Linked DNA regions of Homo sapiens. The protein of the gene in region 5 interacts with the protein of the main gene of each other region in a pairwise test. Each region holds a gene or a part of one and is shown on either strand. Other genes may lie near its edges. The genes, in order: OSTC, TTYH1, TRPM4, ADGRG1, CCR9, G6PC3 and SAP130.

What was found.
Region 1: the proteins of CCR9 (region 5) and OSTC interact in a two-hybrid assay, tested with the Homo sapiens proteins (one large-scale study listed by BioGRID and IntAct).
Region 2: the proteins of CCR9 (region 5) and TTYH1 interact in a two-hybrid assay, tested with the Homo sapiens proteins (one large-scale study listed by BioGRID and IntAct).
Region 3: the proteins of CCR9 (region 5) and TRPM4 interact in a two-hybrid assay, tested with the Homo sapiens proteins (one large-scale study listed by BioGRID and IntAct).
Region 4: the proteins of CCR9 (region 5) and ADGRG1 interact in a two-hybrid assay, tested with the Homo sapiens proteins (one large-scale study listed by BioGRID and IntAct).
Region 6: the proteins of CCR9 (region 5) and G6PC3 interact in a two-hybrid assay, tested with the Homo sapiens proteins (one large-scale study listed by BioGRID and IntAct).
Region 7: the proteins of CCR9 (region 5) and SAP130 interact in a two-hybrid assay, tested with the Homo sapiens proteins (one large-scale study listed by BioGRID and IntAct).

Annotation. Positions count from the first base shown.
Region 1 is NC_000004.12:108,656,946-108,660,966, forward strand, and holds part of OSTC (oligosaccharyltransferase complex subunit OSTC), read left to right. Parts: intron 1-504; coding exon 505-702; intron 703-4,021. UniProt on the Homo sapiens protein: Subunit of STT3A-containing oligosaccharyl transferase (OST-A) complex that catalyzes the initial transfer of a defined glycan (Glc(3)Man(9)GlcNAc(2) in eukaryotes) from the lipid carrier dolichol-pyrophosphate to an asparagine residue within an Asn-X-Ser/Thr consensus motif in nascent polypeptide chains, the first step in protein N-glycosylation.
Region 2 is NC_000019.10:54,432,290-54,435,280, reverse strand, and holds part of TTYH1 (protein tweety homolog 1), read right to left. Parts: intron 1-2,991. UniProt on the Homo sapiens protein: Calcium-independent, swelling-dependent volume-regulated anion channel (VRAC-swell) which plays a pivotal role in the process of regulatory volume decrease (RVD) in the brain through the efflux of anions like chloride and organic osmolytes like glutamate.
Region 3 is NC_000019.10:49,167,792-49,171,812, reverse strand, and holds part of TRPM4 (transient receptor potential cation channel subfamily M member 4), read right to left. Parts: coding exon of another isoform or gene 3,897-4,021; coding exon 3,716-3,896; intron 3,554-3,715; coding exon 3,390-3,553; intron 3,261-3,389; coding exon 3,077-3,260; intron 457-3,076; coding exon 395-456; intron 236-394; coding exon 44-235; intron 1-43. UniProt on the Homo sapiens protein: Calcium-activated selective cation channel that mediates membrane depolarization. While it is activated by increase in intracellular Ca(2+), it is impermeable to it.
Region 4 is NC_000016.10:57,627,091-57,631,704, reverse strand, and holds the start of ADGRG1 (adhesion G-protein coupled receptor G1 isoform b precursor), read right to left. Parts: upstream 3,076-4,614; 5' UTR 2,903-3,075; exon of another isoform or gene 2,877-2,902; intron 1-2,876. UniProt on the Homo sapiens protein: Adhesion G-protein coupled receptor (aGPCR) for steroid hormone 17alpha-hydroxypregnenolone (17-OH), which is involved in cell adhesion and cell-cell interactions.
Region 5 is NC_000003.12:45,884,995-45,889,626, reverse strand, and holds the start of CCR9 (C-C chemokine receptor type 9), read right to left. Parts: upstream 3,085-4,632; 5' UTR 2,972-3,084; intron 1-2,971.
Region 6 is NC_000017.11:44,073,462-44,077,092, reverse strand, and holds the end of G6PC3 (glucose-6-phosphatase 3), read right to left. Parts: intron 2,934-3,631; coding exon 2,827-2,933; intron 2,414-2,826; coding exon 2,323-2,413; intron 2,125-2,322; coding exon 2,006-2,124; intron 1,784-2,005; coding exon 1,642-1,783; intron 1,414-1,641; coding exon 1,050-1,413; 3' UTR 749-1,049; downstream 1-748. UniProt on the Homo sapiens protein: Hydrolyzes glucose-6-phosphate to glucose in the endoplasmic reticulum. May form with the glucose-6-phosphate transporter (SLC37A4/G6PT) a ubiquitously expressed complex responsible for glucose production through glycogenolysis and gluconeogenesis.
Region 7 is NC_000002.12:128,021,560-128,025,580, reverse strand, and holds part of SAP130 (histone deacetylase complex subunit SAP130), read left to right. Parts: intron 1-4,021. UniProt on the Homo sapiens protein: Acts as a transcriptional repressor. May function in the assembly and/or enzymatic activity of the mSin3A corepressor complex or in mediating interactions between the complex and other regulatory complexes.

The DNA.
Region 1 (4,021 bases), on a different chromosome or scaffold from region 5:
AAAATTAGCCAGGCGTGGTGGCACGCGCCTGTAGTCCCAGCGATCTGGGAGGTGGAGGTTGCAGTGAGCCGAGATCGTGCCACAGCACTCCAGCCTGGGCGACAGCAAGACTCAATCTCAAAAAAAAAAAAAAGCTAAGCTAAAGTTCTGGGTAAAGCGTTCGTATACATAAAATATGAGTATTTATTTTACATAAACAGTTGTGTTAGTTGAGGTTTTACGACATTTTTTGAATGTGAACTCCATGAAGACAAAGATTTTTGTCTGTTTTATTCATTGTTGTATATCCCCCAGAACCTAAAACAGTGCTTGCTACCTAATAGACTCAATAAATATCTGTTGAATGGACAGATGAATATCCAGAGGTATAGTAAAATAGTTGTAAGGCTAAGAATAAGAAATATAGCACAAAAATGTTTTGGCACAAAAACGGAAATAGGAATTTCAATTTAAGGGAAACATTTCTATTTGTTATCTTTCTATGGTCATTCTTTTCTTTTCCAGAGTAAATGGACAATATATTATGGAAGGACTTGCATCCAGCTTCCTATTTACAATGGGAGGTTTAGGTTTCATAATCCTGGACCGATCGAATGCACCAAATATCCCAAAACTCAATAGATTCCTTCTTCTGTTCATTGGATTCGTCTGTGTCCTATTGAGTTTTTTCATGGCTAGAGTATTCATGAGAATGAAACTGCCGTAAGTTATTTGTGTAATCAGCACCTTATGTTGCAAATTGGTAAAATGATTACCTGGAAAATGTAAAGTCATAGGACATTTAATTTAACTTTCATTTACATGGGTGAAAAATCCAGAAACCAAATATATTTGTAACTTGGTCAGGTTACAGCTATAGTTAATAAAAATTGAAACTAATAGATCTTCTTAGTTGTTATCCCCATGAATGTTCATGAGAGAAAATTTAGTTACTTTGTCCTGGCATCAATGACTGAAGATAGTCATTGTTTCTTTTTTTTTTTTTTTTTTTTTTTTTTTTTTGAGACGGAGTTTCGCTCTTGTTGCCCAGGCTGGAAATGCAATGGCACAATCTTGGCTCACTGCAACCTCTGCCTCCCGGGCTCAAGTGATGCTCCTGCCTCAGCCTTCTGAGTAGCCAGGATTACAGGCATGCACCACAGCACTCAGCTATTTTTTGTATTTTTAGTAGAGGTGGGGTTTCACAATGTTGACCAGGCTGATCTTGAACTCCTGACCTCAGGTGATCCTCCTGCCTCGGCCTTCCAAAGTGCTGGGATTATAGGCATGAGCTACGGCGCCCAGCTGTCACTGTTACTTTAAAATGCCTTTTGGCTAATCTGTAACACAGAATTCCAGTAGTATTAATGGTAGGGAATAGCTTCAGATCACTCACTGTTGCTGCTCTTTGAATATTGGTAGGAAGAAAACCCATTATGCCTTGTAAGGGAAAAGAGAGTTATTGCCCTTCAAAAAGATAGGAAAAGGATATTTATATATTTGTGTGTGTGTGTGTGTGTGTATGTGTGCGTGTTTAATGTGTATTTAAAGATTATTTTGATTCAGAAAACTTTTCAATATCTTTAGAGGAAAAATAAGATCGTTTATGGCATCTTTCATAATTCTGTTTAAGATTATTTACTTGAAATGTGAACAAATACAATCACATTTCCATATATTCTAATTTAATTCATGGATGCATTAGTAACTACAGTAACGACAGGAAATTTGGGCAAGCATACCACAAATATTAGCTCTTAGTATTTTATTTTTAGTATTTTATTTTTTAGGGACTGTGTTAAACATCAAGTGTCAACTATACTGATTTCTTAGTGTGTTTGAATTTTACAAATTCACTTGTTCTGTGACTTAACCTGTCCATTGTCTGTAACACACCTGGGGTAGAATGGGCAAAAGTACATGATGATCCCACAATCATCATGTTCCCATTTTAGTCCTGGCAGGATGGGAGGGAAAGCATGGAGTTCTTTGTCAGCTGAATATCTGTGTGGCCATATAGCTGCTCAGTTTCCTCTGGCAGCAGCTCTTTTTTTTTTTTTTTTTTTTTTTTTGAGATGGAGTCTCACATTATTGCCCAGGCTGGAGTGCAGTGGTGCAATCTCGGCTCACTGCAACCTCCGCCTCCCAGGTTCAAGAGATTTTCCTGCCTCAGCCTCCCAAGTAGCTGGGATTACAGGCGCCCGCCACCACACCCAGCTAATTTTTTTTGTATTTTTAGTAGAGACAAGTTTTCACTATGTTGGCCAGGCTGTTCTGGAACGCTTGACTTCATGATCGACCCGCCTCAGCCTCCCAAAGTGCTGGGATTATAGGTGTGAGCCACTGTGCCCGGCCAGCAGCTCTTATTTTCATTTGGGGAAGGCATTTCTGGCCATTGGCTAAGTTGTGTGAAGACTAAGGTACTCCAGCCTCTTATTGTTCCTTGTTTTTCTGCTCCTAGTGGAAGTAAGTCACCATAGCCTGGTAAGGTGTACTTGTATAGAAAAGACTGAAGTTTTCATTAGCAGAGCAAGAAAAGAGGAGACTCCCAGATAGAATAAAGAGGTTACTGAAAGGCTCATGCCTGTAATCCCAGCACTTTGGGAGGCTGAAGCGGGCGGATCACAAGGTCAGGAGATCAAAACCATCCTGGCTAACATGGTGAAACCCCATCTCTTACTAAAAATACAAAAAATGAGCCAGGCATGGTGTCGGGTGCCTGTAGTCCCAGCTACTCGGGAGGCTGAGGCAGGAGAATGGCGTGAACCCAGGAGGCAGAGCTTGCAGTGAGCCAAGATCGTGCCACTGCACTCCAGCCTGGGCGACAGAGTAAGACTCCATCTCAAAAAAAAGAAAAGAAAAGAAAAGAAAATTTACAACCAAAACAAAAGAAACCTTTGGAGGCATGTGTCAGAACAGAGAAAGTGTCCTGGTTTTGCTTATAGAATCAAATATGTTCTCATTCTACCTACTGTTTTCATTCTACATAGTGTTTTCCTTCTTTATAGTTTTACGTCCTCTTCCTAGGAATGAGTCTATTAAGAAAATAGGTGTTATCTTTTAGCTTTGGCATTTGACTTTCAGGATAATAGAGCTATCTGCTACTGACAGAAAAGCTTTGACAAGTGTTTAATACTCTGGATTACCTTCATCTTACTTTTGCAATCATTTATGTGAACATTTGTCTTCCTGTCCACATTCTATAGGCTAGTATGTAACACCGTTGACTAAATCCAAACTTTAGGCTAGGGAAAAAGGGTATACTTTCTGGGTTTCGGTTGTAGATTATGTTTAGATCTAATCAAAACAGGACAGTGGTCCAAACAGAAAATTGCTATTTTCTGTATCTTGTAAATCTAGGATTTGAGTTTTTAAGATGAATTTATGGTTCCCTTTCTGATATCATTTCTCATCTGCAGCTCCTAATGCCTGGTACCTTGGGTATGGAGTGAGGAGAGACAATGGACAGTTTTATATAAGAAATGGAAGTAATGATACTATCTTTCCTGGAATATTTGCAGGCCCCAGAGGAGATGATGAGCAAGGACTGTTGGCCTGTATTACACACAACAGGGTTGTAGTTACTATCCCAGCAAGGAAAGGGTGTATCTTTCTTCTTTCATGCAAATTATCTATGATGACCTAACAGTTTGATTATAGTGAGTGGACTAACCACAACAATAAAAAAGATGTCAAAAAAACACCAATAGCCACTGGTTTTTCCAAATCAACTATGTTTCTAGCATCTGAGATAAAGGATGGCTGTATCATAAGATGCACCATGATAACCTCCAGGGTGGAATTCTTTTTTACAAAGATGTTACCTTTAGCAAGAGATGCCTTTGAAAAGGAGAAAACAGTAGCACTGAAACAGTATTACTGGTTCTGTTTTCTGATTTATGCTTTTTTGAAAGACCTGATGTTTCCCCTATTGATATAATTTTACTAATTAAAACATGTTTTATTTGATGTCTTGAGTTTTGAAGAAACGTCGAAAATGAATGACTGTTGGCTGGGCACAGTGGCTCAGGCCTGTAATCCC
Region 2 (2,991 bases), on a different chromosome or scaffold from region 5:
TTGCAGGCCCCTATCTCCCTTTCACATGGGTCCTCCCCAGTCAGCACCCCACATCTAGAACCAGTCCAGCATCTCCCACCAGCCCTGGGCCCTCTCCTCCATCTTCATCTACCCAGGAACGTGAGAACTGCTACTTCCGTTTCCCTTCTCCCTCCCGGCAGCGGCACCTCCTGCAAGAGCATCCTCCCCTGCACCAAGCGCCCACAGGCCAGCCACCGCCAGCTCCGCCTTGGTCCAGGGGCGAGGGCTTCATAACCTGGGCCCTGCTGACATTTTGAGCCAGATCATTCTCTGTGGTGACGGCGCTGCCCTGTGTGTTGTGGGGTGCTGAGCAGCCCCACTCAGCTCCACCCACCAGATGCCAGGAGCACCCCCTCCTGCAGTGTGACAACCAACAGCAACTCGGCACCCGGCCAGGTGTCCCTGGGGGCAGAACTCCTCACCCAGCCAGGTGTCCCTGGGGGCAGAATCACTGGCCTAGAGCACGTGGAACAGCACGTCGAAAAACCAACCAGTGGCTCAAGATGACACCGCGCACACAATACACACTCAACATGCCAACAAATGCTGGCTCTGATGACTGTCGTCCCAAGAAATCAGCAGAAACGGCCTTCACCGAGTGCTAAGCACCTGCACAGCGTATGTATTCAGTGGGGGTTGACAGAGCCTGCTCTGCCCCAGGCGCTGCCCCCAGTACCAGGAAACTTCGGTAAACAGGACCGAGAAGGTCATCTCAGAGGCTGGTGTGCAACGAGGTAGGAGGGCGGGGGTCAGTGCAGGGCAGGGGTAGGTCGGGTAACCCCACTAGCAGGGATGGGTCCTCCAGGAAGGAGCCAGGCAGAGGGCTGTGCAGAGGAAGCTGGGAGGGGCTGAGGCCAGAGGCAGACAGATCCAGGACTGACCACCCAGGCCCTTGTAGGTCAGGGCGAGGAACAGGGATTTTAATCCATGTCTGAGGGGAATCACTGAGCGTTTTAAGCAGAGGAAGAACTTGATCGGATTGTGTTTTAAAAGGATCACCTGGCTGGCTGGCTGCTGCATGGAGGACAGACGGGGGTAGGCGAGGGGGGACAGGGAAGAGGCCCCTGTGGTCATGGTGGCTAGGATGCGGGGACCAGGGCACAGCAATGGTGGTAGGAACAGCGGTGGGAGTCCATATAGGTTTCAGAGGAAGGGCCAACAGAACTTGTTCTGAGAATGGTTGTGGGAGCTAAGAGCCTGAGTTTCTGGCAGGAGCACCTGGTTGAGGTGGGGTGTCTGTTACTAAGCCAGTGAGGGTTGGGGTACGGACCTGTCGGGGCAATGGAGGCTCTGTTTTGAGAGTATTGGTACATGCACACTGTCCTTCATCCTCACAACAGCCCTGCCAGGCAGACACTGACCCTCTCACGCTGCCGCCTCTTGCAATGGTGGAAAGAAGTTGCAGCCCAGAGAAGGCAAGCTACTTGCCCAGAGTCACACTGTCTGGAAGGGGCAGAAGCGATATTGGAGCTGATTCTCTTAGGCTCCAGTGCCCTCCCTCCTTCATCCTCATCCCTGATGTCCCTTATTGTTGATTTTTTTTTTTTTAATAGAGATGGGGTTTCACCATGTTGGCCAGGCTGGTCTTGAACTCCTGAGCTCAAGGAGTTCTGATCTGCCCCACTGGGCCTCCCAAAGTGCTGGGTTTATAGGCACGAGGCACCCATCCCTAGCCCCCTCCTATTTTTTTTTTTTTTTTTGAGACGGATTCTCGCTCTGTCACCCCGGCTGGAGTGCAGTGGCTCGATCTCAGCTCACTGCAACCTCCACTGCCCAGGTTCAAGCAATTCTCGTGCCTCAGCCTCCTGAGTAGCTAGGAATACAGGGGTGTGCCACCACGCCCGGCTAGTTTTTTTGTATTTTTAGTAGAGATGGGATTTCGCCATGCTGGCCAGGCTGGTCTCAAACTCCTGACCTCTGGTGATCCGCCCACCTTGGTTTCCCAAAGTGCTGGGATTACAGGCGTGAGCCACAGTGCCCGGCCCCGCCGCTTATTCTTGATTTTAATCTGTGAGGACCCTGGCACACTGACAGGGGAGATGGAGACCCAGGGTCTCATGGTGCAGTGGTAGGGAAGGGTAGAGTGATCTGTCCTCTTCCTTCCCTTCCCTCCCTCCACAAAGGAGTCTGGGGGCCTGTATTCCAGCCCAGTTTCTGCCTAGGCCACAGAAAAGCGCCTGAACCCCAGTTTATCCTTATGCAAAAGATCAGGGCAGCCCTGGGCTGGGTGGGGGCCCAGCCTTTCTCAGCTCAATAGTCAGCAATTCTGAGCATGGCTTCAGTGCTTACTCCCCACTCCCTTTTTGGAATGCCAGTTCCAGAAGGGTGGGAGGCAGTGGGAGCCACAGAAGGGGTCTGTCTGAGCCAGACCAGGGAAAGCTCAGATCCATGCGATGGCGTAGACAAATCCCTCTTGGGTAGGGTTGCCAGATCAAATTCAGGACTTCCAGTTACATTTGAGTATCGGATGCCCAATACATAATTTTCTAGTATAAGTATCTCCCCAGCATTGCACCGGGCGTACTTATAGCAGAGTGGTTTGCTGTTTGCTGAATCTGGCAGCCCTATTCTAGGGTCCATGGGGGGATGGATGGGGAGGGGGCCATGCTTCCTTCTGCAGGGGAGAGAACGAGGCCTCAGCTGCGGCAGGGGCATTGGGCATTGAGAGTAGATGGATGAAGACATTCCAGAAGCAGAAAGGACAAAACTGGGCAACTGCCTGGCTGTGGGGGGCAGAGGGCGGGGCCCTCCGGAAGGTCCCTCTCTCCTCAGTGTGCATGGGCTGGCTGGCCGTGTGACCTTGGGAAGGTCCCTCAACTCTGCTCCTCATCTTCTAACCTGTTAGGTGGGATAATCATAGTTCCTTCTTCATAGCATTGTTATGAGGCATCGATGAGTTACCACCTGTGAAATGCAACAGGGTCAGGTACTTGGTGAAGCTATGCACATGTGAGGTCTTTGATGGGAAGA
Region 3 (4,021 bases), on a different chromosome or scaffold from region 5:
CCCTCCCATCTCAGGATCCAGAGTTGGGCCCCCAGTGTCATACCTGGGCCTGCAGGACCTCAAGGTCCCCTTTGGGAAAGAAACGCCTGATTCGATCTCGGGCTTCGCCTTGCCTGGCTCCCCCACTCCCTGGGGCCAGAGTGTCTTCCAGGGTCTCCGCCAGGCAGTCCGCAGCTCCCCCTGAGCCAGCCACGAGGAGACATGGGAGCTGAGCCTGGGTGGCGTTCTCTATTCGCTACAGGATAAAGGCATTCTTTATTCATCACGTCAGAAAAGGCAGGATATTCACCCTACCCGGAGTCAGACCCCCAGACCCTCCCTAAGACTCAGGACCCAGGAGTCCTGGCCCCCAACCCTCCTTCCCCCTTAGATCCGGGCATCCGGGCCCCTATACCGTCAACATCTTCTCATCACCATCAATCAGGAGGAGCAGGACAGGGATGTCAATTCCAGTCCCTGAGGCAAGAAGAGAAGGGGGCTTGATTACCTCCCATCAGCCTTTGCTGGAGATAGGAGAAAACCGCATTTCCCAGGAGTCGGCAAACATCAGCCTTGTCCTAATCTTCTGTTCAGAGGCTCATTGGAATTGTCATTTCTTTTTTTACTTAATTATGTATTTATTTTAGAAATGGGGGTCTTGCTATGTTGGCCAGGGTGGTCTCGAACTCCTGGCCTCAAGCAATCCTCCCAACTTGGACTCCCAAAGTGCTGGGATTATAGGCATGAGCCACCGCATCAGCCTAATTTCTGAAACAGGGTGTCACTCTATCGCCCAGGATAGAGTGCAGGGGCATGATCACACCTCACTACATCTTGATCCTCCTACTTTAGCCTTCTAAGTAGCTGGGACCACAGGCACACACCACCGTGCCCAGCTAACTTTTTAATTTTTGGTAGAGACAGGGGTCTTGCCATCTTGCCCAGGCTGGTCTCGAATTCCTGGACTCAAGGGATCCTCCCACCTTGGCCTCCCAAAGTGCTGGGATTACAGCTGTGAGCCAGCGCGCCTGGCCAGAATTGTCATGTCTTTGGACACTTCAGGAGGGAGCTAGATTTTGAAGACAGTAATGCTTAACTTCCCCAGGGAGGAGGGGGCTGAGGACCTAGACTCCTGAGTCCCTGAATGAGGCAGGTGTTTCTTGTATGAGTCAATCCTGTCATTGATTAACCATCCAGGAGCCAGAGGGAGTGAAAGTTCAAATAGAAAGTAAAGGAAATGGGAATAGAAAGGGCTATCTAACCACAATATAGATATTTACCAAAATCCAATTGCACCATAAAGATAGCACTATATCGACTCTACTTCCATTAAAATTAGAAACTAGGCCAGGTGCGGTGGCTCATGCCTGTAATCCCAGCACTTTGGGAGGCCGAGGCGGGTGGATCACCTGAGGTCAAGAGTTCAAGACCAGCCTGGCCAACATGGTGAAACCCCGTCTCTACCAAAAATACAAAAATTAGCTGGGAGTGGTGGCTCGTGCCTATAGTCCCAGCTACTCGGGAGGCTGAGGCAGGAAAAACGCTTGAACCTAGGAGGCAGAAGTTGCAGTGAGCTGAGATCACGCCACTGCACTCCAGCCTGTGCACAGAGCAGGACTCCCTCTCAAAAAAATAAATAAATAAATTAGAAACTAGACCACATTACCACTAACACTGTATTCATCCTGGAGTTTTGAGCTAACTCAATAATGCAAAAAAATGAAATCACTGAAGTGAAAATTGATTTTTTGGTTTTTGGTTTTTTGTAAAGCTGGAAGGGACAAAAGTACCTATTTGAAGAAAACATGGCTTGTATTCCCAGAAAATTGGAAAACCCCACCAAAAATAAAAATAAAGATCAATAAGAAAATTTGGTAAGAGGATTGATACAAGAAAAATACACAAAAATCAAAAACTTTCCTCAAACCTAGTAATGTATCTTGTTCATGTTTTGATAAAATTATAAGATATTGGCTGGCTGGGCGCAGTGGCTCACGACCGTAATCCCAGCACTTTGGGAGGCTGAGGCAGGTGGACCACTTTCGACCACGAGTTTGAGGCCACCTGGGCTGCATGGCAAAACCCTGTCTCTACAAAAAACTTTAAAAATTAGCCGGAGCCAGGTGCAGTGGCTCACGTCTGTAATCCTAGCACTTTGGGAGGCTGAGGTGGGCGAATCACTTGAGGTCAGAAGTTCGAAAACAGCCTAGCCAACAAGGTGAAACCTCATCTCTACTAAAAATACAAACATTAGGCCGGGCGCGGTGGCTCACACCTGTAATCCCAGCACTTCGGGAGGCCAAAGCAGGCAGATCACAAGGTCAGGAGATCAAGACCATCCTGGCTAACACGGTGAAACCCCGTCTACTAAAAATACAAAAATTAGCCGGGTGTGATGGCACGTGCCTGTAATCCCAGCTACTCAGGAGTCTGAGGCAGGAGGCTGAGGCAGGAGAATTGCTTGAACCCAGGAGGCAGAGGCTGCAGTGAGCCGAGATCGCGCCACTGCACTCCAGCCTGGGCAACAGGGCAAAACTCCGTCTCAAAAAAAGAAAAAAATGCATCAAGCTGTCCACCTTCGTGCATTTTTCTGTATGTATGAGAAATTTCAAAATAAAGTCTGTTTGTTTGTTTGAGATGGAGTATTGCTTTGTCGCCCAGGCTGGAGTGCAGTGGCTTGATCTCGGCTCACTGCAACCTCCACCTCCCGGGTTCAAGCAGTTCTCTCACCTTAGCCTCCCAAGTAGCTGGGATTACAGGCACACGACACCACACCTGGCTAATTTATTTTTTATTCTTTATTATTATTATTATTATTATTATTGGTAGAGACAAGGTCTTGCTCTGTTACCCAGGCTGGTCTTGAATTACTGGCCTCAAGCAATCCTCCTACCTCGGCCTCCCAAAGTGTTGGGATTACTGATGTGAGCTAACTCACTCTCAGACAGAAGTTTTTAAAACCATGAATAATGACGGGGAAAGACACTTAACCATAGGTAATTCCCCAAATCTCGACCAGACCAAACTACTGGGATCCTGAGCGCTGGGGTTGCAGGTTGTGGGTCGTGGGTTGTGGGTCATGGGTTCGACCACTCACCTCCCACGCCCGTCTTCTGCTGTGAGATGTAGGACTCCAGGCGCAAGCGGAAGCGGTTCTCGCCCCCCAGGCAGCCGTGTGTGCCGTCGTCCACCAGGAAGAAGGCCGAGTAGTTGTAGTCCAGGGGAAACTGGACCCCGTCCTCCGGGTCACCGCGCCACCGGTACCTCGCAGGGAACGAGCCCTAGGGGAAAAATGGCCAGACCAGGGCGTCTCCTCATCGGGGCCAGAAGGACAAACACGAGCCCCTCCTCCTCCCTCAGACCCAGGAGTCCAGGCCTCCAGCCCCCTTTTCCAAGTCCCTGGGTCACACCTTGGGGTTGATGAGGGTGTCTCTATTCCGGACCACACCCCAGGGGGCCACACCCATGGCCACCACCTTGGTGCCCCCAGTGCTGGCCATCTGATGGTCCCGTACAGCCACACCAACATGCCGGCCGATGCCCGTGTGCAGACCCCCAGTGACAATCCAGGCTCCTACACAGACGCCGAGGAACATGCAGAGGCAGGGGGAGAGAAACAAAGAATAAGACAGAGACACACACACACACTGGGCGGCGGGGGAGGCCACCCACAGTCGTGGGGGAGATGGCAGGCAGGCCGAGGCCCAGGAGACAGCCCCCACCCACCCTCGGTCACCTGTGCTCTGGGCAGCCCGCACCAGCCCACGACGCAGCAGGTCCTGCAGCCAGGTCTGGAGGACGGGGCCCCCCGATCCCCCCAGCACTGACACCACCAGGTTCGGGGCACGGAAGCCCCATGTGCGTGTGACCAGACTATAAACTGCAGCTGGATCCGTTCGGTCAGAGAGCCGGAGGAACTGTGGACACATGGGAGCGGGGCACACAGGGAGGGGGACAGAGACCCAGAGAGACGGGGACAGAGACCCAGAGAGACGGGGACAGAGACCCAGAGAGACGGGGACAGAGACCCAGAGAGAGAGGG
Region 4 (4,614 bases), on a different chromosome or scaffold from region 5:
CCAGCCCGCCCCGCCCCCCATTTGCCATCTGCCCAGTTGCTGTGTCTGGTCACCCCTGACTGCTGGGTTTGCTCACATGATGTCCCCATCTGCTGTGAGTCAGAAGGCGGGGTCCACAGGGCCACCCCCAGCATGGGGACGGGGGCTGAGCCCTGATCAAGCTCCAGTCTGGGAGGAGGAGGTGGTGCTGGGGTTTGGGGCTCTGTTGTCACACTCCCCTCTCCTCCCTACTTCCACCCGACTTCCCCACGGCCTCCTCCATGGCCTCCCTGGGAGCCCTGCCACATGGAAGCCCATCCTGCATCCCTGAAATGGCACAGCCCCCCAGACCCCACCTGCACACAGCTTCTGCACAGGATGGCGGAACCCGCATCCCAGTCCGGCTGGAGGACGGTCCGCAGTGGTCCCTCCATGGCTGTCCTGCCCACTCCTCTTACCTGCCTTTGTCATGCTGGGCCTTGCCAGGAGGCCAACCCCTACACCAACCCTGCTGCAGCTCTGCCACCTCTCTCCTGTCCTTCCCCTCGACTGGGCGCCACCTCCCCCTCGTCTCCCTCACACGTGAAGCTGCTCCCAAGCTTGAGCCTTAACCCAGCAGCCAGAGACTGGGACTGCCTGGCCAACCTCACACTGAACACCCATCCTGGCCCTCCCCGTCCTGCTGGGTTTGCAGCCTGGGCCCCCAGCCCCACACAGCACCTGCCTGGCGAGTCCTCCTGCCTCTCTTCCCCCCCACAGAGCAGATTGAGACCTGCTGGCCTGGCTCATCAAGTCCCATGAAATGACCCATGCCAGGGGTCCGGTATCACCCTCCCCGTGGTCCCCAGCTTGTATCGTTCCCCAAATGTTTTCCTAAGTAGTTTCCTCCACTAGGACTCCCCCTACAGTGCTCATACAGACATCAGTCCCTTCCCCTCCCACCTTCTCCCAAGCCCAGCCTAAGTGCCTTCCGCAGAGGCTCCCTGGTCCTCTTCCCCTTCTCTGGGCCCTCTGTTAGCAAGCTTATCTCACGCCTCCATCTCACCTCCTAACTGTTGTTTGTTTGTTTGTATCCCTGACAAAAGGAAGTGTCACACCAGGCTGACTGGCCCTTGCCCAGTGGCCCAGGCCGGGACACAGCCTGTCCGTCACAGATCACACCTGGAGCGGCGTTCTCCATCACCCGACACTCTCGGAGCCAAGCCCCAGGCCTACGGGAGCCAGGGCAGCTGTGATCACCCCTACACACCCATTTAGCAGCTGAGCTCCTGAGGCGAGAGGAGAGGAAGGGCAAGGGGGCCACAGTGATGCTGTGACCAAGGTGGGTGCATATCTCGGGTCCCTGCAGCAAAGAAGGGGTCAGGTCTGGCCCTAAGAGCTCATTCCACACCTGGACATTGGCAGGAAAGAGCCCAACAGGACCCCTGCCTGGGCTCTGGGGAGCCAACTTGGCAGCCCATGGTTATTAATGCCCAGATATGCTCCTTCTCACACAGTCTCTGACCCCAAGGAGCCAACAGGCTGCCCGGGGCTATCCTCTGGGAGGGGCAGGGGGCTTGGCTCTGGGTCTGGGCCACTCACGAGTTCTGAGATACCTTATTTGCCTCACCCACGGCCATGTTCCCGACAGAGCACAGAGTGCACAGTAAGCGCTCAATAAATGCTTCTATAAATAACTTTCTTGGTCCACTGAAGGAGCAACAAAGGCTATTCCTACACAGCCCGTGGACCCCAGGCTACAACTGCTCCACATTGGTGGGGGTGGGAGGCCCCTGCCTTGACCCATCCCCTCCTCCCTACGCAGTAAAATGAACATCAGACCTCTCCCAGTGGGGCACAGGGAGACCCCAACTCTACCACGCAGGGGAGGTGGGTTGGGGACGGGGGAGGACAGGAATCATTGGTTTCCTACACACTCCCAGCCCCCGCGGGGACCAGGGTGGGAAGTCCTATCAGTGCCAGGCAGATGGAGCCCTGAGGTCTGGTGGCAACGGGCAGGGTGTTCAGCCCGCAGCCTGCGCTTCCCCGTCTGCCTGTCACCGGTTCCAGGACTCTCACCCACGTGGCCCACGTTCAGAGACCCTGCGGGGCCACCTTCTCCCAAAGCTGGCCTTGGTGATGAAGAGCACGGCTGTCCCTTGCTCAGTGGGGACCCCGGACCCAGCCCCAGGGACAGCTGCAGGAAAGCTGTCCTCAGGAGTTCCCTCAAGTGCCACCCCCTCCCTGAGCCTGGCCCCTGGCTTTCTATACCTGGATGTGCTAGGTGACCTTGGGCAAGCCACCTGCCCTCCCAGAGCCTCGGTTCTCCCATCTGTGTAGTAGGAGCACTGATCTCACAGCCTAAAGAGCAGACCCCAGCTTGCTGGGCCCAGTGACTGTACCACTCTGAGCCTCAGTTTCTCCAGCAACAAAATGCCTGGGAGCCCCGGGAGGTGTCGCTCCCCTTGGGCCCCAGTCCCCTCCCAGGCATCTCCTTGTGGGTCCGCCCCCACTCTAGAGACCCACCCACAGCCATGCTGACCTGGACTAGATCCCACCAAGATACCAAGACCCCCCCATTTCCCCATTTCACCACCATCCCTACCCACTGTCCAACAGCCACCCGTGCACGGATGCACACATCCACACTTACACTCACATACACTCCCACACTCACACTCACACTCATACTCACACACACTCACTCACACTCTCACACTCAAACGCTCAGTCACACTCTCACACTCACACTCACATTCTCACTCACTCTCACACACTCACACTCACACACTCTCACACTCTCACGCTCACACTCACACTCACACTCACTCTCACACACTCACACTCACACACTCACACTCTCACACACTCACGCTCACACACTCACACTCTCACACTCACACTATTCCCCTTCCCACCTGCTGTCCAGCCCTTGTTTGGGTACCTGCTGCCAGGTGGAGGGTCCCACGCAGGGCCAGGCGGCTGGACCACCTTTCAGGATCCACCCCCAGAGGCTTAACCTGCCAGCCCTGGTCCCCGCTGCCTGCCGAGTGAGCTGGAGAGCGTGGGAGGCTCCCAGCCCATCTCCTACGGCAGGGCAGGGCAGACAGCTAGTGCGGAGAGGGAGGGACCGGGTTTGTTTGGTGGGGAGACACCCCTCTCCTGCCCCAGCTGGGCTCCTCCCTCCTCCCTGAGCTTGACTGGGGATGACGGACGATATATGTGAGTCATGGATTTCTCAGAGGGAGACCAGGAGGGGGCAGGGCTGAGAGCGCTGAGGCAGTGATCCTGGGGGATGCCCATGACTCAGCGCCGGGCAAGGGGGCACCTCAGCCTCACCCCTCATCCAGGCAGACAGTGTTCAGGGACAGGAAGGGGCCGGGGATCACTCTGCTTCCTCAGCCTCCATCTGTCGCCTCCCAGGGCCAGTCTCCCCAAAGTTCCCACAGAGAGGCCGGGGTTGCCACGGCAACAGGGCCCTTGGATGCTGTCCGCCCACCCCCCAGGTCAGGGCGACAACTGCCCTTTCCTGAAGGAGAGTCCAGCCTCCTTGGCAGCCGACGGGAGCCAGTGCTGACCGGCAGAGCGGAAGGCAGTCGGGAGGGAGCGGGTGACAGGCAGCCGGGCAGGAGGCCAGCCAGGCCACGCACGACTGACCGGCTGACCTGCGTCCCCCCGGGGGGTGACCCGTCTCCCCTCTCAGTGCTCCTCAAGCACCCACAGTTTCAACATCCCAAGTCATTTTGGATTCTGAGACCCCAGGGGCTTCTGGAAACGGCCTCCTTTAATCCATCTGCTGAGCCAAAGGGGAAACCGAGGCCTGGGTGAAGAGCCATTCCCAGTGGCCCCAAAAGCTCAGACAGAGAAGTGTGGAAATGGACCATGCCCCATCCCCCTTCTGGTCATTCCTCTGTCAGCAGCACCTCCCGCTGCTGGGGTTCAGTGCCCTTCTCGAGTCAGGAGGCTTTGGATAACTCACACTCCCTGCAGAGGCTCCTGTCTGCCCTCCTCCTCCGAGCAATGAGGATAGATGATTCCTCAGTCAGATGTGCTGGGAGGCTTTTACAATGCCAGAAGGGTGAGTGGTGACAATAACAGTAATTACACTCGCTGACCACCGTCTGCATTCCAGCTCCAGAGCGCCCCTGGCAGTGGAGAGAAGTCAAACCTGCTACTCAGACCAGTGCCTGGTACTTGCCAAGCCCTCAATAAATACTCCCTGTGAATGTGGTGATGAAGAAGAGGGAGCTTAAGGCAGATACATGTAGCTCAGAGATGAGAATTAACCTGCCCAAGATCACACAGCAGGGAGGTGCCCGAGTTGGGATGGCGGGAGCACAGGCCGTCTGGCTCCATAGCGGGTCTCCTAACCACTCAGCAATCCAGCACCCCAGGCCTCAGCCTGGGGCCTGGACACGTGGATGCTTGGGGAACTTGAGATTCCTTCTCTCCGGTAGAGATCTGCCTTCTAAACAAGGGGGCCAGGAAAAGCTTCCCCATGCCACGTGGAGGAAGAATGAATGGAACGTCTCGGGCAGCCTAGGAGCCAGGGCTGCTGCAGGTGAACTGCACTCCTCACCTACCTGCTTGAAATCAAGCTGCAGAAAGGAAGGGCCACAAAGCCACCCCGTGGGGTGCAGGGAGGCCATAAGGTGA
Region 5 (4,632 bases):
AACCACTGTGACCAGTGGAAAATGAACTTTCATGTTTTCATTTAGATTTTGCAAACTATTTAAATATCTTACCAAGTGTGTAAAATTTTATTTTAAGAGCTGTCATAAAAATAACTTGTCAGATTTAAAAAAAAAAGAAGAAGAAGCCCAATGCTCTAACGTTCAGCACACCTGTTTACAAAACTCATCTAGAGGAGGAACTTGTAGCCTGCTCCAGCTACCGCAGAAAGAGCAAGTCTAGTAATTACATTCACCGAGGCTACTTTATGCAACTAAGTTGTACACTAGCTTTCTATAAAGGTTTCTCTTTATTTTTTTTTTTAAAGGTAATATATAAACACAAGCCAGGCAAGATGGCTCATGCCTGTAATTCCAACACTTTGGGAGGCTGAGGTGGGAGCATCACTTGAGGCCAGGAATTTGAGATCAGCCTGGGCAACAGAGCAAGACCCCATCTCTACAAAAAATTTAAAAATATGCCAGGCATGGTTGCCTACCCTGTAGTCCCAGCTACTCAGCTGGCTGACGCAGGACAATCGCTTGAACCCAGGAGTTCAAGGCTGAAGTGAGCTAACATTGCACTGCTGCACTGCAGCCTGAGTGACAGAGCAAGACCCTGTCTCTAAAATAAATAAACAAATAGTATATATCATGTAATATATTATGGTGTATAATAGAATGTAATATATTACAGTTTATAAAATATGCATCTGCTTCTGGCTCATAGAAAATTTGGAGAGAGCCAAAGAGTAAAAACAGGACATACCCCTCCCTAGAGCCCACATCTAGAACCTCCACAGACAGCCTTGCCATCTATTTCTCTTTCATTTTTGTCAGAATACTTCTCAAATATTTTATTCTCCCAGCTACTAAGTCTCAGTGCTTGCTTTCATTTTTGTCTTGCCAGTGAGAAAGCGGGAAAAATATAGGGGGGAAAATCCCACATATGACCAAACATACTGAGAGTGAGGACCATCTCAGCGGTCTGTCGGGAGTGGATGGGCAGTTGACTCAGCACTGTGGCAAATCTCTCCCTTGCTGCTCAGTGAGGCCTTGTTGCAGGTGCCATGGGCCATCCATCGAACCCACTTATTCAATGTGCCTTGAGTACCTGATACATTTATTTGGCTTAAACAATGTGTAAGACATGATCCATGTCCTCAAGAAGCTTGCATTCAAATACACTGAGTAAGTCATGGCTGCAAATAACAACAAAGGGAAAGTGCTATGAGTTGTGGTAGGAATTGGAAGAAGGAGGTCATGTCTTTAGCTCTGGGGAGAATCCAGGAGGGCTTCATTGAAGAGGTGACATTTTTGCGGGTCCTTGAAGGCCGAAGAGCATGGAGACATGCAACGAGGGGAGGGAACATTGCTCCAGGGTGGGAAAACATATGCACTAAGGCATGAAAGTCAGAAAGCATGGGGTATGTGCAGGGACCTGGGAGATAAAGGAAGGGAGAGAGCTGCTAATTCTCCAAAAGAGAAAAGTGCCTATTAGAAAAGTTAGCTTGGAACCTATTATTATCCAATCACTATTTTTGTATTCTCTAACATTCTTACGTAGCCAACATGAAAATCAGCATGGGGTTATTGTGCACACAGCATCTCCCCACACTTATAGCCTCTGATGCTTACAGCACTAACATCAAATCAGATACTAACATGAGTCAGGAATGCAGGTCCTTACTTTGAACTTTGTACAATTTGCTACACGGAGCTTGAATCATCTCTTACATTTTTTCATAGCTCTGCTTTTTGTTCCCTACACGAGGCAGGGTCTCTGAGCCATCTATCAGATCCATCCACTCACCATGCCTGGATCAGATGCCTGCCAACCGCCCAGCAGGGGCTGCACAGGGCCCAGGGGCTCCCAACACAAGCCTGTGAGTGAGGCCTACACAAAGAGGCTTCAGAACAGATAAGCAGATATTGGAAGAAAAGGACTCCGAAATTCCAGATGCTGAAATAGTAAATTAGCTTTTGCTCGTTCAGGAAAGGGAGTAAGGAGATGGGATCCCACAGACTGGCTGCTGCACAGCCCTTCCGGTTCAGCACACAGTGACCACTCTCTGGATGGACTTGCCAGCCGTCTATGGAGTAACAGCTAATTCAGAACTAAAGAGGGTAGGTGTGTTTGAAAAGGCAAACCAGCATCCACTGATGAGTCATTTAAAATAACTTTTTGCTTTACTCTGATCATAAAGGAGTATTTTTACAATGCACAAAAAATCCCCAAAATGCCAACATACATAATATAGAAAATAAAAACTCCTGAAGCACCCTTTCCTAGTTTAGCCATTGTTAAGTTTCTGAGATACTTCCTTTCTGACTTTTTCTCTGTAACACAACCTCACACACACACACACACACACACAGACACACACGCACTTAATAGAAAGGAAATCAGACTACACATATAATCTTCTATCTTGCTTTCTAATTGCCCATCTTTCATGGATCACCTTCCATGCCAATTCAACATAGAACCGTATCATAGAATTGGATGGCTGCTGTGTATTCCATTGTCTAGATACATCACAATTCATTTAACCATTCGCCTCCTGATGCATAGTTTCCTTGTTTCCAGTTTTTCACTGCTACAAAGAATCCTTTCCATGGGGCAGTGTCTCAGACTCAAGGACCTCATGGGTGTGTCCTTTACCCCTGGCCACCATCTTGTCCCCCAGCACCTGCTTCTCCTTCCTTTAAGGTATAAATCACAGACTGCCTTAAGCCTAAGCTTCATGTATGTGAAGGGGGAGGGAGTTTTATTACTCGCCCTACAAGAAACCTGGGTTGGGCATCACCAATTCCCATTTACCTTCCTGGAAGTTTCTAGAAAAGTGCCTGGTGCCCATGACCTCTGAACAAATGAGTGCAAGCCCAGGTTTTAGAAGCCATCATAGCAGCACACAACTGAGGGCCAAGATGACACTGGGTTGGGGGCAACAAGAAGAAGAGCAATACTCACTGTGGAGGGCGATGCAACTCTCCCTGGGACAGCAGGCACCACCAGCTCTCAGTGTCTGGGGAAAGAGCTGGGTTGCTCTCTGCCTGGGATGAGGGGCAGGCTTTGTGGGTTCTGAGCAGGCAGCTACCCGATAACAACACGAGAAAGGAAGCCAGGCCACCCCTGCCTGTGTTGTCACTGGTGGGGTAGCCCAAGAGGGTGGGGAGTCACCTGTGTAGCTTCCAGCAATCAGCGGAGTCAATCATTTGCAACCAGAAACAAAAAGCTGAAAACTGCTGGGATAAGGGGAAACTGTCTCATCTGAAGACGCACATACAGACTGATGATCTAAGAGCAAATTCTCTTCCTAGACAGCACAGCTGCTTACAGGGAATGGGGAAATTGGAGGATCCCATCGAGAGAAGTCAGCCTTGTCAGGCTTGCCAGAGGTGCACACTGATGAGATTTCTTTAGGTGGTGTCACCTGAGCAGGCCTGTATCAGATTACCACCCAGTGGCAGATGTAGCACTATCCATCGCAACATACCTTTTCTGGCCTTGACAGACGTACCAGAACCCGGAGGGCTGTGCTATCCAACACAGTAGCTACTAGGCAGATGTGCCTATTTAAATTCAAATTAATTAAAATGCTAACTAGGGCCAGTGCAGTGGCTCACCTCTGTAGTCCCAGCACTCTGAGAGACTGAGGCGGGCAGATCACTAGGCAGAGCCTAGGAGTTCAAGAACAGCCTGGACAACATGGTGAAACCTCATCTCTACAAAACACACAAAAACAATTAGGCAGGCATGGTGGCCCATGCCTGTAGTCCCAGATACTCAGGGAAGCTGAGGTGGAAGGATCAGGAGGCAGAGGTTGTAGTGAGCCAAGATTGCACCACTGCACTCCACCCTGGGCAACAGACTGAGACCCTGTATCAAAAAAGAAAAATGTTTTAAGTGTTAACTAGTTTCTCAGTCATGCCAGGTACATTTCAAGTGCTCAATAGCCACATGCAGCTAGTGGCTATCCCAATGGACAATGCAGATACAGAACCTGTCCATCGTCGCCAACAGTGCTATTGAAAGGCACTGCTTTAGAAAGTCTGCCTGTGAGATGTAGCTAGGAACACATGGAGTGCTGGAAAGCCACAGACACCTTCAAATTGGGGCAAATCTAGTAAGGTTTTGCACATCAGATACATTAACAAAGATAATACAATAAATTGTATTAATTACAGGTGTTTTGGTAAAACTTTGAAAAAAGCTAAATATACAAAATATTGCATTTTTAATGAAGATCACAGACGAAGTCTTCCCATCCACTGCTACAGTGGGGACTTCAATCCTGATGTGATTAATGATTTCCTGTCATTGTTATGACAAAGATCCCTTTTATATATTTGTTCTGGGGGAAAATCATGACTACACTCTTGTGGATGTTAATTTCCACCTCTTGGTGTATTGATTGTCCCGAGGACTCAATGCCGCTCTGTCATGGCGTGGTACTCCCAGGCGCATGTCCCCTTCATCACCCTCAGTTCCCGTAGAGCAAAGGGATGCAGAAGGTGCACTTGGGTTTATTGTCTAAATGGAAAAAGGCCAACAAATAGGTCATCTGAAAGGTAGAGGGCATGCACAGTAAGAACGAAAGAGGTGTCTGATTCATCAGCCTTAAGGAACGG
Region 6 (3,631 bases), on a different chromosome or scaffold from region 5:
CACCAATCTGTTTACATATTTATTATCCTATGGGGGCCTGAGCAGGATTGAGGGAGCCAGGGGAGGGGCAGGAGTCCCAGCACCATCGGTTCATAGTGTGCTTGTGTGTTTGTTTTAGATCCTCCTGGGGGATGGGGATGGGGCCAGGCTCAGTGTACTAGGCCTCTCTGTGCTGAGCCCCAGGCTCCCGGCCCCTTACCCACTCTCTCCCTGTGGCTGGTCTGGTTCTCATGTAAACCCACTCCTTGCTTTGTCTCCCTGGATATGGATTTCAGTTAAGTATTTTGTAACCCGTTACACTGTGTGTCCTTGTGTAAATAAACTTGTTTCTGGCAGTGCCTTCTGGGGCCAATGTCTCTATTCTCTGGGCTCCCAAATGGAGTAGAGGTTCTCATCCTCCTTCCTAGCCAAACACACTACTCTTTTCTCCAGCCCCTGGACTAGAAGCCGATTTAGGAAACTGGAGGTTGGGGCGCAAGATCTGTCCTGTAAGTGAAAAGACAGGGTTATACCGAATATAGTCACAGCATCTCATGGGACCTCTCATGTGGCCTAGGCAGTGATGAGGCAGGGGACCCAGGGCTGAGAGGTCTCACCTGAGTTTACAGCCCTCTCCTTTCCTGCCTCTCTGCCCCTGGAAACAGGGCTGGAGATGGCACAGAGACTACTGGAGCAGCCTGGCAAAGGTTCCACTTGTGCACACACAGGCAAGGCCCATGGAGATGTGCGCATAGGCAAGAAAGGAATCTCAAAGTATTCAAGGGCTTTATTGGGGCCGCCCTGGCTGCCCCTCACAGTGTTGCAAGAACCCGCTGGTCTTGCTGTTGCCTTTGCTCTTTGGGGGCTTGAGAGGAAAGGCAGAGGGAGGACCAACTTATCTGGGAGAGAGAAGGCCCATCTTTGGGGCTAAGACCAGGTGGTGCGGAAGCAGATTTAGGGAGGGGAGGGCCTACTTAGGGGCTGGAAGGGGATGGGGCTGCCTCCTGGAGTGTGGTGGTCACAGAGTGTTGGCTTTGTGGGAGGGAAAGGAAAGGGAGGCACACAAGAAGTCAGGAAGAGTGGATGGGCGGTGCTTCCTGGGCACTGAACATGTGCACTGCCCAGGGCACGAGGGCCAGGACTAGGCATGGCCAGAGGGTGTACTTGAGGAAATTGAAAATGTAGAAGAGGCTGATCTGAGGGGGGTGGCCCAGCCAGTCCAGGGGGCCCAGCAGCCCCATGGCCAGCACAAGGCAGGCTATCTTCTGGCCATTTCCCAGCTGTGCCCGACGCACCTGGGCATAGCAGGGAGAGTGCAAGGCAATGCCCAGGCCCAGGGCAGCCCCTGAGTCACGGCTCAGGGAGGCAAAGGGCCGGCTATCCACGTGTATCCACTCAGGCCGCTCACACCACTTGAAGGCTAGGCTGATGGACCTGTGGGGAAGAAGAGTTCTTGCCAGGAGAGGCTGGAACATAGAAGGCCACTGGCTCTTGGCCATCTGCCCTTGGGGCCCACTCCCATGTTCTGTTTTGTGCCTGTGAGGGTCTATGTGAATAGGTAATGTGTCCTTTTTTAGCTATAATGAACCAGAGACACACCAGGCTAGGTGCAGGCGAGATAGGACAGGGCCCAGCCTGCCCAGGCTTCAAAGCGAGACTTACCAAGAAAGATCCAGGCCCAGTGTAAAGAGGGTCCAATAGATGAGGCTGGTGCCTAGCATGAGGGCCAGTGCAGTCAACCCATAGAAGCTTAGCTCCCGCTCCATAGGCACTCGGGGAGTCATCAGCCAGCCCAGGACAGCGCCTAGGAGAGTGGAGTGACAACAGCTTCAAGGAGTCTGGGGATATGACCCTCCCCACCCCGACCCCCAGCTGCAGTGCAGCTTGGCAAGAGAATAAACTGAGACATAACGGGGGGCCTCTGGGGTGGGCTCTACAGAAGCTGGGAGCGATGGGAAGATCCTAGACTGATCCTCCCACTGCCAAAGGCATCCTCTCAGTCCACCCCGTTGCCCCAGTTGCTCACCAGTTATTAGGCCAGCCAGCACCTGGTGAGGGAAATGTGCTAAGATGAAGATTCGCGACAAGCCAACCGCCAAAAGGAAGGTGCAATAAGCCAGGCTAGGCATCACCCTTACCCAGCGGCTAGAAAGAAGAGAGGCAAGGAGCTCAGAGCGTGTCCATACACAGCTTGGCCTCCTGCAGCACCCAGGTACTCCATGGTTGAACCACACAACCTAGGGTCCCCAAAACTCCAGCTCCCAGGCTGCCATGCTGCTGTGTCTATTAGGTACAGGGTGCCATCACCCCTGCTCCCAATGGTGGGCAATGCCAAGGGTATACCTGCGGGCCCGAGTGGCCACCTGCGAAGACAGGGCCGTCATTATGGGCCAGAGGGCTGCTCCTGTGATCATGCAGTGTCCAGAAGGGCTGCCTGCCAGCAAATCCAGAAGCTCGTGGTGAGAAGATGGAGGCAGAACCCCGGGGCCCCTGGTGATGCCTCAATAATACAGCTGCCTTTCCTGGCTGAGAAGAGCTTTTCCCCAGCACTGATTCATAACTCGCTCTGCTCTGAGGCCTTTTTACTGCCACTTGAGGTCACTGTGCTCAGGTTTCTGTCCTGATCTGTGTCTCTTGGCTGTCCTCTATACAAGGTGGGCAGCTGGTACATAGCATGAGTGCCCTCCTCCCATAACTCAGCTTGGTCTCCCTGGGGTTCTTTTGTTCTCTGCGCCAGTAATTGAGAGGCTGGTCCTTTGGTTGGGCCACCCAGGCTGAAAAGTACTCTGAAATGTTCACCCGAACCCTAACCACATTGGGAAAGGGAGAATGTTTGAGGCTTCCCACCTGGACCAGTCTCACAAGAAGAGGGGAACTGGTGAACCTGGGCTGGAGCCTGGCTGTAGTAACCAGACTCATGGACCCACCAAAAGGGCCTGTCTCCAAAAAGAAACCTGGAAGAGAACAGATGCAAGATGACTTTCCACATGCACACACAGCCAGGGGGGGTACAAGGCGGGCAGGACACAGAGTACTCTGGAGGGCCTGAGGGGTGAAGTCAAAAAGGGACTACGATTCTGTCCACTGCTCTCAAGGTATCCATGGATACCTTGCCATGGTTTTCTACCTTAGAACAGGAGAAAGAAAGCACACTATTTCTTTTCTTTTTTTTTTCCTAACCCTCAGCCTGTGGAAACACTATTTTTAAAAACTAGTCTGGGGCCAGGTACAGTGGCTCATGACTGTAATCCCAGTACTTTGGGAGGCCTTAGCTGGAGGATCACTTGAAGCCAGGAGTTCATGACCAGCCTGGGCAACATAGCAAGACCCAGATTCAACAAAAACAAAAAATTAGCTGGAAGTGGTGGTGCACACCTATAGTCTCAGCTACTTGGGAGGCTGGGCGGGCAGATCACTTGAGCCCAGGAGTTCGAGAATAGCCTGGGCAACATGACAAAACCCCATCTCTACAAAAAATACAAAAATTAGCCAGGCATCTTGGGGTGTGCCTGTAGTCCCTGCTACTCCAGAGGCTGAAGTGGGAAGGATCACTTGAGCCCAGGAGGTTGAGGCTGCAGTGAGCTGTGATTGTGCCATTGTACTCCAGCCTGGTGATGGAGTGAGATCCTGTCTCAAAAAAAGAAAAAGTGAA
Region 7 (4,021 bases), on a different chromosome or scaffold from region 5:
TGACAAGAGAAAAAAGTCTGTATGTGCTTAGTACAGATGCAAGCAGGGTTTTTTTCCCCCCCTGAATATTTAACATCCAAAGTTGGTTGAATTCACATCAGGGAACCCATGGATACAGAGGGCTGATTGTATACACATAGATAAAACTTGGTTTTTAGTCTTATACCCTTTGAGTGGTAGAAATTAGTGGTTCTCAGTGACAGGTGTTTGGGGAGGTGATTTTTCCTCCAGGGGAGTACTTGGCAATATCTAAAGACAGTTTGGTTGTCACAACTAAAGAGTACTATTGGCATCTGATAGGTAGAGGCCAGGGATACTGCTTAACATCCTGCAAGGTAATGGGAAGCCCCCCACAACAGAGAAGTATCCAGTCCAGTCAGCAGTGCTGAAGTTGAGGAATTCCTTCAAATACTCTTTTTCTCTATGTATTAAGTAAATATATGACATTGCAAAGTGAAATAAATGCTTTTCTATTCCTTTTTCTTCACCACTGGATTCTGGTGTTCCTTATGGTAAATGATACCACTGTCTACTCATTGCTCAAACCAGTAGCTGAGGCTTTTTTTTTTTTTTTTTTGCGCAATAGGGTCTCACTCTGTCACTCAAGCGGCAGTACAGTGGCATAATCACAGCTCACTGCAGCCTCGATCTTTTGGGCTCCCCAGCTAATTTTATTTTATTTTTTATTTTTTTAATTTTTTTGAGACAGAGTGTCACTCTGTGGCCCAGGCTGGAGTGCAGTGGTGCGATCTCAGCTCACTGCAGTCTCTGCCTCCTGGGTTTAAGTGATTCTTGTGCCTCAGCCTCTGAGTAGCTGGGATTACAGGCATGCGCTACCATGCCTGGGTAATTTTTTTTTTTTTTTTCGCATTTTTAGTAGAGACAGGGTTTCACCATGTTGGCCAGGCTGATCTCGGACTCCGGACTCCAGACTTCAAGTGATCCACCCTCCTTGGCCTCCCAAAGTGCTGGGATTACAGGCATGAGCCACCACACCCAGCCACATGTTCAGCTAATTTTAAATTTTTTTGTAAAGAGGGGATCTCACAATGTTGCCGAAGCTGGTCTCAAACTCCTGGACTCAAGTAATCCTCCGTTCTCAGCCTCCCAAAGTGTTAGGATCACAGGTGTGAGTCACTGTGCTGAGCTGGAAGCATCTTTAATTGCTCTGCGTTTTCTTATGAGCTATGGCCCTTGTCTAATGTTCCAGCCTCATTTCTTACTATTTAGCCTTCCTCCTGCCAACCTAATTTTTTTTTTTTCCAATGGAGATGGAGTCTTGCTATGTTGACCAGGCTTGTCTCAAACTCCTGGCCTCAAGGAATCCTCCCGCCTAGGCCTCCCAAAATTCTGGGATTACAGGTGTGAGCCACTTGGGTGGCCGCCAACTTAGTTTTTGTTATAAATTTATTTTAGTTCTCTTTAGACTTGAAGTGACTTTAAGCTACTTATGACTCCTGCTCGATGGTATCTACTCATATTTCTAAATAAATGATTAAAAAATTCCCAATTTCACGACTTTGGGACTTTGCACATTCTTTTCCTTTTGCCATAGTCTTCCTTGTTTCTTTCCATATACTTACTTATTTGGCTAATTCCTTCTTTTTTCAAGTTTCAACTTAGATGTTATTTTCTCTAGAATATTCTAGAGAATATTATTATTCTCTAGAATAACAGAAGACTCTATCTTCCATAACAACTCAGGTAGAGAATCTAGAAATAGAACCAGATATATATAGCCAATTGATTTTTGATAAAAGTTCCTAAGTAATTCAATAGGGAAATGATAGTCTTCTTTTTTTCTGAGACGGAGTCTCACTCTGTCTCCCAGGCTGGAGTGCAGTAGCATGATCTCGGCTCACTGCAAGCTCTGCCTCCCAGGTTCACACCATTCTGCCTCAGCCTCCTGAGTAGCTGGGACTACAGGCGCCCACCACCGTGCCCGGCTAATTTTTTGTATTTTTTAGTAGAGACGGTGTTTCACTGTGTTAGCCAGGATAGTCTCGATCTCCTGACCTCTTGATCTGCCCGCCTCAGCCTCCCAAAGTGCTGAGATTACAGGCATGAGCCACTGCGCCTGATGGTCTTTTCAGTAAAATAGTGCTGGAAGATCATAACATCATTATGGGGGAATAAAGGCTGTGTGCAGTAGGCTCATGCCTGTTATCCCAGCACCATGGGAGGCCAAGGCAGGTGGATCGCTTTGAGCTCAGGAGTTTGAGATAAGCCTGGGCAACATGGCAAATCCCCGTTTCTACAGCAAATACAAAAATTAGCCGAGGCCAGGCTAATTGTACAGTGGCTCATGCCTGTAATCCTAGCATTTTGGAAGGCTGAGGTGGGCAGATCACCTGAGGCCAGGAGTTCGAGACCAGCTTGGCCAACATGGTGAAACCTGTCTCTACTAAAAATACAAAAATTAGCTGGGCGTGGTGGTGGGTGCCGGTAATCCCGGCTAATCGGGAGGCTGAGGCAGGACAGTCACTTGAACTTTGGGAGGCAGAGCTTGCAGTGAGCCAAGATAGCGCCACTGCACTTCAGCCTGGGCAACAAAGCAAGATTCCGTCTCAAAAAAAAAAAAAAATTAGCCAGGTGTGATGGCTCATGCCTATAGTCCCAGCTACTTGAGAGGCTGAGGTGGGAGGATCGCTTGAGCCTGGGAAGCGGAGGTTGCAGTGACCTGAGATCTTACCAATGCACCCCAGCCTGGGTGACGGAGTGAGATCTTGTCTCCAGGAAAAAAAAAAACAAGAACTTATAACTCAGTAGTAAAAAGACAAACAACCTGATTTTTTTTAAGACGGGAAAATATTTGAGTACAGAAGAGCTAGATAAGTGCCAAAGAAGCACATGAGAAGATGCTCACCATTATTAATCCTCAGGGCAGTGCACATTAAAACCACTGTGAGAAACTACTGCACATCCAGTAGAAAGACTGAAATTACAAAGACTGACAATACCAAGTGTTGGAATGGTTGTAGCGCAAATAGAACTCATACTTTATTGTTGGGAATGCAAAATGGCTAGCCACTTCAAGAAACAATTTGGCAATATCTTATAAAATTAAATATACACTTACCACACCACTGAGCAATCTCATTCCATAGGTATTTATCAAAGGTAAATGAAAATATATGTTTATACAAGGACTTATATTCACATGTTCGTAGAAACTGTATTCATAATAGCCAAAACAGGGTTCTCACCAAATGTCTATCAGATGGTGACAGGATAAGCAAATTGTTGTGTGTCCATCCGTGCAGTGGAATGCTACTTGGCAATAAAAAGGACCAGACTACCAGTATACACAACATTATGGATAACCCTCAGTAACATTACACTAAGGAGAGAATCCAGATACATAGGACTACAGATGGTATGATTGTGTTATGTGAAATTCCAGAAAAGACTATGCCATAGTGACAGAAAGCAGATCAGTGGTTTCTGGAGAATAGAGGTTGTGGGGAGGGAATTGACTGCAAAGGGGTGTGAATGAACTCACTGGAGTAACAGGAAATGATCTGTATCATGATTGTGTTATACCGCTGTATACTTTTGCGAACACTTATCTAATGTTACACAAAGAATTAGTGAATTTTATATGTAAATTGTACCTCAGTAAAGCTAATTGATTAAAATGGACAAAAGATAAACATGCACTTCACTAAAGAAGATATATATGAATGGGCTGGGATCACATAAAAAGATGTTCAACATTACTAGTCATCATGGAAATGCTAATTAAAACTACAGTGAGACACACACTACAACCCACTAGAATGGCTGTATATCAAGCAATGAGTAAGGAAGAGGAGCAGCTTGTATACTGCTAATGGGAACAGGCAATGCTACAATCACTTTGGAAATGACTTCGGCAAAGTTAAACATATACTTACCATTTGACCCAACCATTCTGCTCCTTGGTGTTGCTGAGGATATTTGTAAAAAAATTATTGAACTTTTCTTGTAAACCAGTGGTGGTATTCTATGTAATCTATTCCCCAATAAAGAGGTTTTATAG